2 separate regions of the Homo sapiens genome follow, and region 1 is linked to region 2. Evidence: fine-mapped expression QTL. A gene starts in region 2. The other region holds a variant in brackets. All regions are shown on one strand. Distances are from middle to middle.

Region 1 (4,399 bases), 510 kb after region 2:
AAGGGGCTTCCTCTGCATTCTCAATATTCCCTAATCCCTGTCTGCTTTGCCAACATGCTTCTCTGTGGGTGCTCAACAATTTGTGGAGGAAGTGTATTTATAAGTATTTAGTGTTGAACAGAAGAATACAGAAAGGTAAGTGTATGCTACAGCATAGCTTCTATCTTTCTATCTCCTTTTCATTTTTGCTGCTTTCTTTAACTTGATATCCCTTCCCTTAATACTCCATAAAATTATTACATTTAAATATTAAGAGTATAAGGTACCATCTTCAAATAGCCAAAAATTTTTAAATGTTACTAACTCTCTTAAAAAATATAGTCTGACCTCTGTGTCCCAGCAATCCCACTCCTGTGAGTACAGGCCTGACAGAAAGACTATACAGATATTCACCAAAGGACATGTACAAGAATGTTCATATCAGCCCTATATATAATAACCCAAAAACTAGAAACAACACAAATGTCTTCAACAGCAGAATGGAAAAATTATATATTTACACAATGAGATATGACACAGCAAGGAGATGGAACAAATGCACGTATGCAGTACAACATGAGTGAATCCCAAACACATGTTGAGTGAATGAAGCCACACACAAAGAAGAACACAGTATAAGATTCCATTTATATAAAACTCAAAAACAGGGAAAACTAATCAATGGTTACAAAAGTCAAAATGATGGTTACCTCATGGGAAGCAGTGAGCAGAAGGAAGAATGTGAAGCATCTGGAATTTGGGCAATAATGGATTTCTTAACATGGATGCTGGTTATACAAGTGTGTTCAATTTGGTAAAACATATCAAGTTGTGAATTTAGAATACTTGTACTTTTTTGTATGTATTTACTTTAGGTTTATTTTTTAAAGTTTACTTGAAAATTATGGCCTGAAAATATAGTTATCATCTCTTTCTTATTTTTAAGAAATAAGATGATAACTGTGTATTTTATCATCTCTTTCTTATTTTAATGGATAAGAATACTCTTGGCTATATAGTATTGTCTTACCACATGATTCCTTCTACTCCTAAAATATTATGAGACAGATCAAGCAGAGAAGCAGATCCCAACCTACAACTTAATTGAGTTCTCAAACCCTTTCTCTCACTTCTCACCCTGTACCCCTCCTTTCAACACTTCTGAGTCTCAGTTGGCTCATGTGGACAATTTTCTCAGGCTCCTATTGTAATTAAGCCCTCGGTGGGTTTATGCCCTATCTCTGCAACTTGGTAATGGTCTGACTTAAAGTAACTTAGCTTTCAATGTCTCAATTTTCTCACCTATAAATGTTGTTAATAAATAATTGTTCCTACCTCATATCATATCATAGTAAGGACTAAATGAACTAAAAGATGTAAAGCACTGAGAGTAGTGAGCTCATTGGACAACACTGACTTGCATTAATTCTATGACACATCTTTTAACTTCTTAGAAATAAGATACATTCTACAAGCAATGGTGTCTTACCACTACTGTTGATCAGATGGCAGTTCTGAAATAGCTGTCACTGCTTGTGAATACAGCTTTTATTGTCCATTTTATGTGTGCATGAGTGAAATACGAAAATAATACTTTCTCTAAATAAGCAATTATTGGCCGGGCATGGTGGCTCACACCTGTAATCCCAGCACTTTAGGAGGCTGAAGCAGGTGGATAACCTGAGGTCAGGAGTTCGAGACCACCCTGGCCAACATGGTGAAACTCCGTCTCTACTAAAAATACAAAAAAAAAAAAAAAAAAATTTACCAGGGCATCGTGGCATGCACCTGTAATCTCAGCTACTTGGGAGGCTGAGGCAGGAGAATCACTTGAACCTGAGAGGTGGAGGTTGGAGTGAGCCAAGATCTTGCACGCCAGCTTGGGCAACAGAACAAGATTCAATCTCAAAAAAAAAAA[AAT/T]TATTTCAATAAGCACAAAATTAAAATTCTAGGACACAGCTTTTGTTTTCTTTGTGGTGAACACATCAGTTAGGCATATCAATGGATGGCATCTTAGATTTGTTGAAATGTCCTCACGTAATACATCACGAAGTTGCTGTTAAAAGCTTTCTAGCATTATTCTATTTTTCATATATTTTTATGCATTATTTAGTTTTAAAATTGCATGTAAAAATCCATCATTTTAAGGTAGATATTTTTTAGTGTTGTTTAAAGCTTTCCTATGGAATTGGGCAATTGAGAGACTTCCCAGGGATGCAGTGAACTGTGACTAGATGCTCTGCATCACATATTTCCTTCTACTTGTCAAATGTCCTCTTTTTCCCTCCCCCACTGCCAATCCCAGAGCATCAGCAGACTCAGGGCTGGTCGCGGGGTGTTCCCACACGCCTTCTCCTGACTGCCACCTCCCTATTGCTGTCTCAGCTCAAATGTCAACTCTCCATAAAGAGCCTCCACCAACCCATAAGTTTGCTGCATATTGGAACCACCTGGGGATCATTAAGTAATCCTGATGCCTTGTCTCACCGCCAGAAATTCTGATTTAATTGTTCCGTGGTGCTACCTGGGCATTAGGATTTTTAAGAACTCTCCAGATTATTCTAATATGCAGCCAAGATTGGGAACCACCGCATTACCCCGTTTGACTGATACCTCGATATTCTGATACTCTCTTATTTGCTGACTTGATGTTGTCCGGATCCAACATCATCCACTTTTGTACCCCAGCACCTCGTGCAATGTCTGACACACATACTAGGTCAACAAGTGTTTTCTAATATTGTGGAATCAACTGAATTTTACAGTGCGACTTCTGAGAAATGTAAGGAACTTCAGCATCTTCCAAGAGTTGCCACTGGGGCCGAGGAGAATTCAGGAAGTGTTTCAGATGGGGTCGCTCCCTGGACCTTAGGTAACAAGCAATTCCTGGCCCACACCTGCCCAACCCTCTTCAGGCCCCAGCTGGCAAGCAGAGCGGGATGTTAATGGGGCTGACGGTTCCCTCTAGGTCCTCCGCTTTGATCTGACCTAAGGCAGCACTGGGACCATCTAGCAGATCGCTCCCTGGCCCAAGAGCTTCTGATCACAGGGCAGGGTATCAGTGCTTGTTTACCTGCTTTGGGGGTCTCAGAGGACAAACAATGAAGGAGTCTCAGTGAAAGGGAAACTCTCACAGCGGGGTTCCGCACACGCAGCGCAAGGGGACGCTGCGTCTTCTGCGGCGCAAATCTTTCGACCCTCTGCGCTCTGCCGGGGGGTGCGGGACAGCCGGCTGCTGACCGGGGAAAGGACTGCAGCTTGTGGGCGCAAGCAGCTGCAAGGAAAGGCCTCAAAGCATCAATATAATTTTTAAGCTATTTCCCGCCAGTTGTGAGCCCGGGATGTCAAGCTAGCAAAAACTCCGACGTCTCCAAGGAACTAACTTAAAGATATATTATAAGTGAAAAAAGCAAGGTGGTTAATAAAGTGTATAAAAGCGTGCAGATGGGTGGGGGACAGATAAAGAGAAATTCAGGTGCGCTTACGTACTTGCTGGTGCAAACATAACATTATAGCCCCAGAAATACACAGGAGAAACTAATAGTGATTGCCTTCACTTCGAGGAATTGGGAGGCGCAAGAGTTGGTAATCTGGTGGCTTTTGGGTTGCTGGGTATTTTTTTTTTAACTCATGCAAGTACGTTAAGTATATATTGATTTTATATTATATAATATATACTACATATAATGTATTGTTGATATATTCATACATGTATGTAAGTGTTATCAGTTGTTGCAGTCAAGATGTCTAAATTAACCTCTGCCCTGGACGATGACCTAAGGGTACGGAGAAACAGAGAAGACTCTCGGCGTCAAGGACCAAAGAGGGAGGGTGAGAGGAAATATGTGGGATCCCCTACCCCCGTATCTTTTCCCAGAAGCCAATCTGGAATGGATGTGTATTTGTAGGGGGCGGTGATAAGATAAACTGGGGCGCTCGAATACCTGAGTGCCATCCAGACTGCATTTGGAGATCTAAGCCGCCAAAGGCTGGGAGGTGGGGAGGAGGACAAAGGAGGGGGTGGGATTGCGAAACCATCGCCCTTATCCTTCTCTGCGTCGTAAGCGCCAGGAACCCAGCCCCTAAGGGAGCCTTCCCTGACTGCAGCGCCTGACGCCTGGGTTTGAGCCCCTACGTGGACTTTTTTTTTTCTTTTTCCCGGGCTGCGCGTACCAGGGCGTGGGTGGGAGCGATAGTGCATCACCGGGGGAGCATTCGCCACTCGCTCAGAGCCCTAAAAGACTCCTCTGAGGCGGAGTTGGCTGTCGTGCTGGCAAGTGCGCAGTCCCAGAGAGGAGTGTTTCGGGATTAGGGTGTCCGCCGAGGTCCCGCGCTCAGAGGAGGGAGAGACCAGAGGAGCCTTCTCGCTTCCCAGCCCTTGCTCAATTGGAAGGCTTCAAACGTCTAGGGGGAGGCGAGA
Region 2 (4,399 bases):
CCTCTACAATGCATGCTACCACTGTAGCGAGGATAATAAACACATAAATTATGTTACTGCCCTCTTTAAAAGATTCTAAAGGCATTTGATGCCATTAGAAAAAATCCAAATGCTTTATTATCACAGCCAGCCTTTGAGGACTTGCAGCCTCTGCAATATCTAGGCATTTAGTGACTACCTACTTTCCCAATATCTTTCCTTATGGATCCCCTCCACACTCTGACCCACGTTCAAGTTAAATATTTTAAGTATTTGCTACCTGATGGCCAAGCACACTCTGCCTAGCTTCCTCTCATCCCTCAGATTCCAATTCAAATGACACTTCCTCATAAAGCTCTTCACTGACTAATCTCTTCACCATCTACCACATGACATTATTTTCTTCATGTTTATCACAATCTGTAAAAATGTGTGTGTGTATGTGTGTGTGCCCACGCACGTGTCTGTGTAGGGGGAAAAGGGGGTGTTAATTGTTTTTTCTACCACTAGATAAGCTTTATTGGGAGCAGGAATTTTGTTTGTCCTATGTACTACTGTTCCCTAGGGTCCAGAACAATATGGGACATATACCAGACACTCAACAAGTCTTTGTTTAATCAATACTCAAAAGGTGGCATGGTCTACAGCACTGGACTGGAAATGAAATTACCTAGGTTCTAACCAGACTTGACTCTACCAGCAACTAGCTGTGTGGCCTTGGGTACAACACAAGATTGGAGTGGCTTATGAGTAACTGGAAGGTAAGCAAGTGAAGAGAGCAAGTATGAAGACTTTTTTCCCAAATTTCCTTGTCTAAATTCAAAAAGTGTAGATATATGGAAATCTTTAACCTCTCTCATTCTCAGTCTCCTCATCCGTATGAGATTACTTTAAAGGTCACTTCAAGTTCAGAAGTACCATAATTAGGCTGGGTGCGGTGGCTCACACCTGTAATCCCAGCACTTTGGGAGGCCAAGTCAGGCAGATCACTTGAGGTCAGGAGTTCCAGACCAGCATGGCGAACACGGCGAAACCTCATCTCTACTAAAAATACAAAAATTAGCCGGCCGTGGTGGCGGGCGCCCGTAATCCCAGCTACTCAGGAGGCTGCGGTGGGAGAATTGCTTGAACCCAGTAGGCGGAGGCTACAGTGAGCCGAGATAGCGCCACTGCACTCCAGCCTGGGCGACAGTGAGACTCCGTTTCAGTAAAATAAAAAAAAAAGATACCATAAATTATATGGGCCTAAACTTGAACCTTCCTTACTCACCCCTCACTTATACTCTACCCCTTCTACCCTCAAGAACCAAATCATGGTAGTCATCCTGAAACCAAGCATCGCACAGTGCACCTTACTATCTAAACCTTTGCTCATAGGGCTGCCTCTTCTCCAGCTCCAACCACTGGAAATTCCATCCCTCAAAGCCCAGATCAACTGCTAACTGCTTCATAACCACCTAGTCCAAAATGAATATGATCATTATGTTCCAGAACTCCTCTATGCTTCAAATTAGAGTACTCCCTGATCTACCACTACCTGCTGGACTAGTCACTTAACTTCTCTTCGCCTCAGTTTCCTAATCTGTAAAATGGAGCTAAAAGGACCTACCATACCACATATTATTGTTGGATAATAGAGAACACTTAGCATGGTAATAACATGTTCAATTAAAACATTATTTCTGTGCTACATATATTTTCCATGCTCCTTGAAGGCTCCGAAAGAGCATTTTCCATTTCTGAATCTCCCAAGTTTGACGCCATTTACCTCTCAATGTTTTGACTTTTTGTATCCATAAAATGAAAGAAATGGACTAGACCAACTACCATTCCCTCCAAAAATGTTATCTATTCCCTTGCAAAAATAGCCTAACGCAAAGATACTGCAGGTGACCTTCCACAAGGACGGGAATTCGAGGGTAAGTTAACTATTGCTGCAAACGGAAGTGGCTGGAAGCAAAGAGATTAAAACAACATTCAAGATTTTGAAGATCCTTTCCAAAGAAACTGACTCCTGCCATAGTGATGGATCCTTTGAAATATGTTTTTAAGTTGGGTTACAAGGATGAACTCGGGGTCCATGAACTCCCAAACAGAAATGTAAAACTGTGCGCCAGAACAAATATACAAATTTTTCTGGGGCCAGAGTGTCTGCAGCATACATTAAATGCATCTGTGACCTTAAGGGGCGAAAAGAGGGTGACAATGAAGAGACTAGTCGCGTTAAGTTGGAAACCACAATGGATGATACTTTAGACAACAAACGCAACCTCAGATAACCATAATCCCCAACAAGTGAGAAGATGACCTCAGACCGGGCGAAGCAGCCGCCGGGTATGAGGAGACGCTGGTGGAAGCAATGCTACCCAGAGCTCTGCACCTTTCCCAGGTCGGCATCCAGCCCGCATGGCCCGCGGCGTGAGACCCGGGGCGAGGCCCCTCGGCAAACCCCGCTTCCCGCCCCGGTACCTGCGGGGTCGAGCGCCATCTCGGCGGGCCGAGAAGAACGTAGCCGCTTGGCGGCTCCGGGGCACGCAGGAAGGGGAGTGGAGGGGAGGGGCTTGGGCTCGGACGCACGTGCGACCCCCGGGAGCTTCCCGCAACAGAAACACGGGCCCTTTGCAAAGCACCGCCAGGACCCGTTCCCTCTTCCTTCCCAGGCTCCTACTTCCGCCGCCCGTTGCGCCTGCGCCTTTCTGGCCCCGCCCCAATCCTGTAACTAGAGTGGAACTGACTTCGCAGGGGGAATGACCAGGAAAGGGGGCGTGTCTGCGTGCCTTTGGGGCGGGACCGTGCAGGACGCGCGCAGCCTCGCTTCAGGAGGCTTGTGCACCAGTTGCAGACCCGGGTCGGCCGTGACTGGAGGCGGACCTGCAGGACTTTGGGACTGTGCCTCACTCGGTGACTGGGCCAAAGTCCGAGCCCCGTCCCCCATACCCGCCTTCGGAGAACCAAATGAATCATCCAGTTCCTTTTTTTTTCTTCGTTAACGTTCATTCATTCATAAATGTCTATTTCATGCCTGCCAAGTTCCAGCCACGGTTCTGAATACGAGGGGAAAATAACAATAAAAATAACGTCCCTGTTCTCAAGGAGCAGTGTGGCAGAGGAGACAAATAAAAGCAACACGCTGTTAAATGTGATAAACGCCACACGCACTAGTTGTTCACAGCTTGTTCTACCATAAAGGTGATATGGTGTGTGCAATATCGTTATTTCTCCTTCAAATCAAAGACTGTGGCTCTCCTAGACGTTAAAATATGGGCTCTAGAAGTACCTCTATGTTGTGAAATAATATCCTCAGGACGTACAGTATGATTTGGGTGATGTTACAAATCCTGCCTCTATCAGTAAAAGCTGTATGTTTTGTGAGAGTAAAATGAAGGAAGGTAATAGCCGTCCCGCTGAAGACCCACTACTCACCTCTTCTCAATAGAAGAAACTTTCTAGGTGGCACTTAGGTTCATTTCCACTCACAAACCAGCCTTCAGAAGTGCTTCCTTGTCAAATTCACGTTTAACTGGCTCGAGCCACGAAAGGGTGAGCTGAGGCCTGGGACAGATGGGACAGATGTTTAGAAAAACAAGGAGCAGCTGCTTCTTCCCTGCAAGGGATTCAGGGCTTTCAAAATGATCCCCTCCCCACCTACCTGCAGTCCCTCCTCCCCTGCTGCTGCTTCCGCCTGGTCAGTTGGCAGAAAAGCTGAGGCAGTTGAGCAGGGCTGGGAAAGTGGGTCTCTGCTCAGCAGGTCTTCCGTTTAAGGGCCTATTTGGGCATAACGGCCCTTATTACAGCTGTAGGTTGAGGTGCCAAGGTGAAGAATTAACGTTTCACTCACCCAGCCAGGGAATCAGGTCCTTTTCCTTGTATATTTTGTAAATATGCTTAGAAATACACCAAAATGACTCTGGTATGCCTCTTTTATTGTTCTGAAGGTGAAGGATTTGATTTAGAAAGCTAAAGCAATCTTTTTGAGGAGATGGAGTATGAAAACACAGGTCAGACACCCATATTCAAGAATTAAACTAAATCTTTCTATATGCAAAAGGGTATTATGGTAAAGGAGGAAAGTTTGATCTGTTATCTTAGTGAGTTGAGTAAGTTCTATTATTTTTCTGGACTTTGGTTTCCAATTTACAAGGTTGTTCTGAGGAATAAATGTGATATCATACAATGCATTTGAAAGACTTTAAAGGACCACTTCTACCATTTCTGCCATAGCTATTACTTGAAACATTACTATTTAACATTTGTTTTTAAATCAACACATTTTTAAAAACACTTAAATAGGCACTATTTACTTTAGCCTTATCCTAAGCAACAGTATCTGTAATATCATGGGTTTTGTGTGCCCCATAGAATGAACTGCTAGACGTATCACACCAGGAGAAGCACTAGCAAAAACGGTAGCCCAATACCT

The links. PIP is the estimated chance that this variant, and not a neighbour inherited with it, causes the effect.
Region 1: its variant is the best candidate, but not a certain one, in a credible set for the expression of CMC1 in whole blood (INTERVAL, PIP 0.59).

What each region holds. Positions count from the first base shown.
Region 1 is chr3:27,730,061-27,734,459 of GRCh38, reverse strand. No RefSeq gene overlaps it. Among named protein-coding and RNA genes, the nearest start is that of EOMES, 9.9 kb to the right of the region's middle. RefSeq lists enhancers at 3,443-4,374, 4,375-4,399. The variant AAT/T (reference allele first, on the strand shown) is at 1,898.
Region 2 is chr3:28,239,862-28,244,260 of GRCh38, reverse strand. CMC1 (C-X9-C motif containing 1) reads right to left here and starts at 2,642. Exons shown (of 4, transcript NM_182523.2): 1 at 2,449-2,642. The coding sequence starts at 2,467. RefSeq lists a silencer at 2,350-2,429.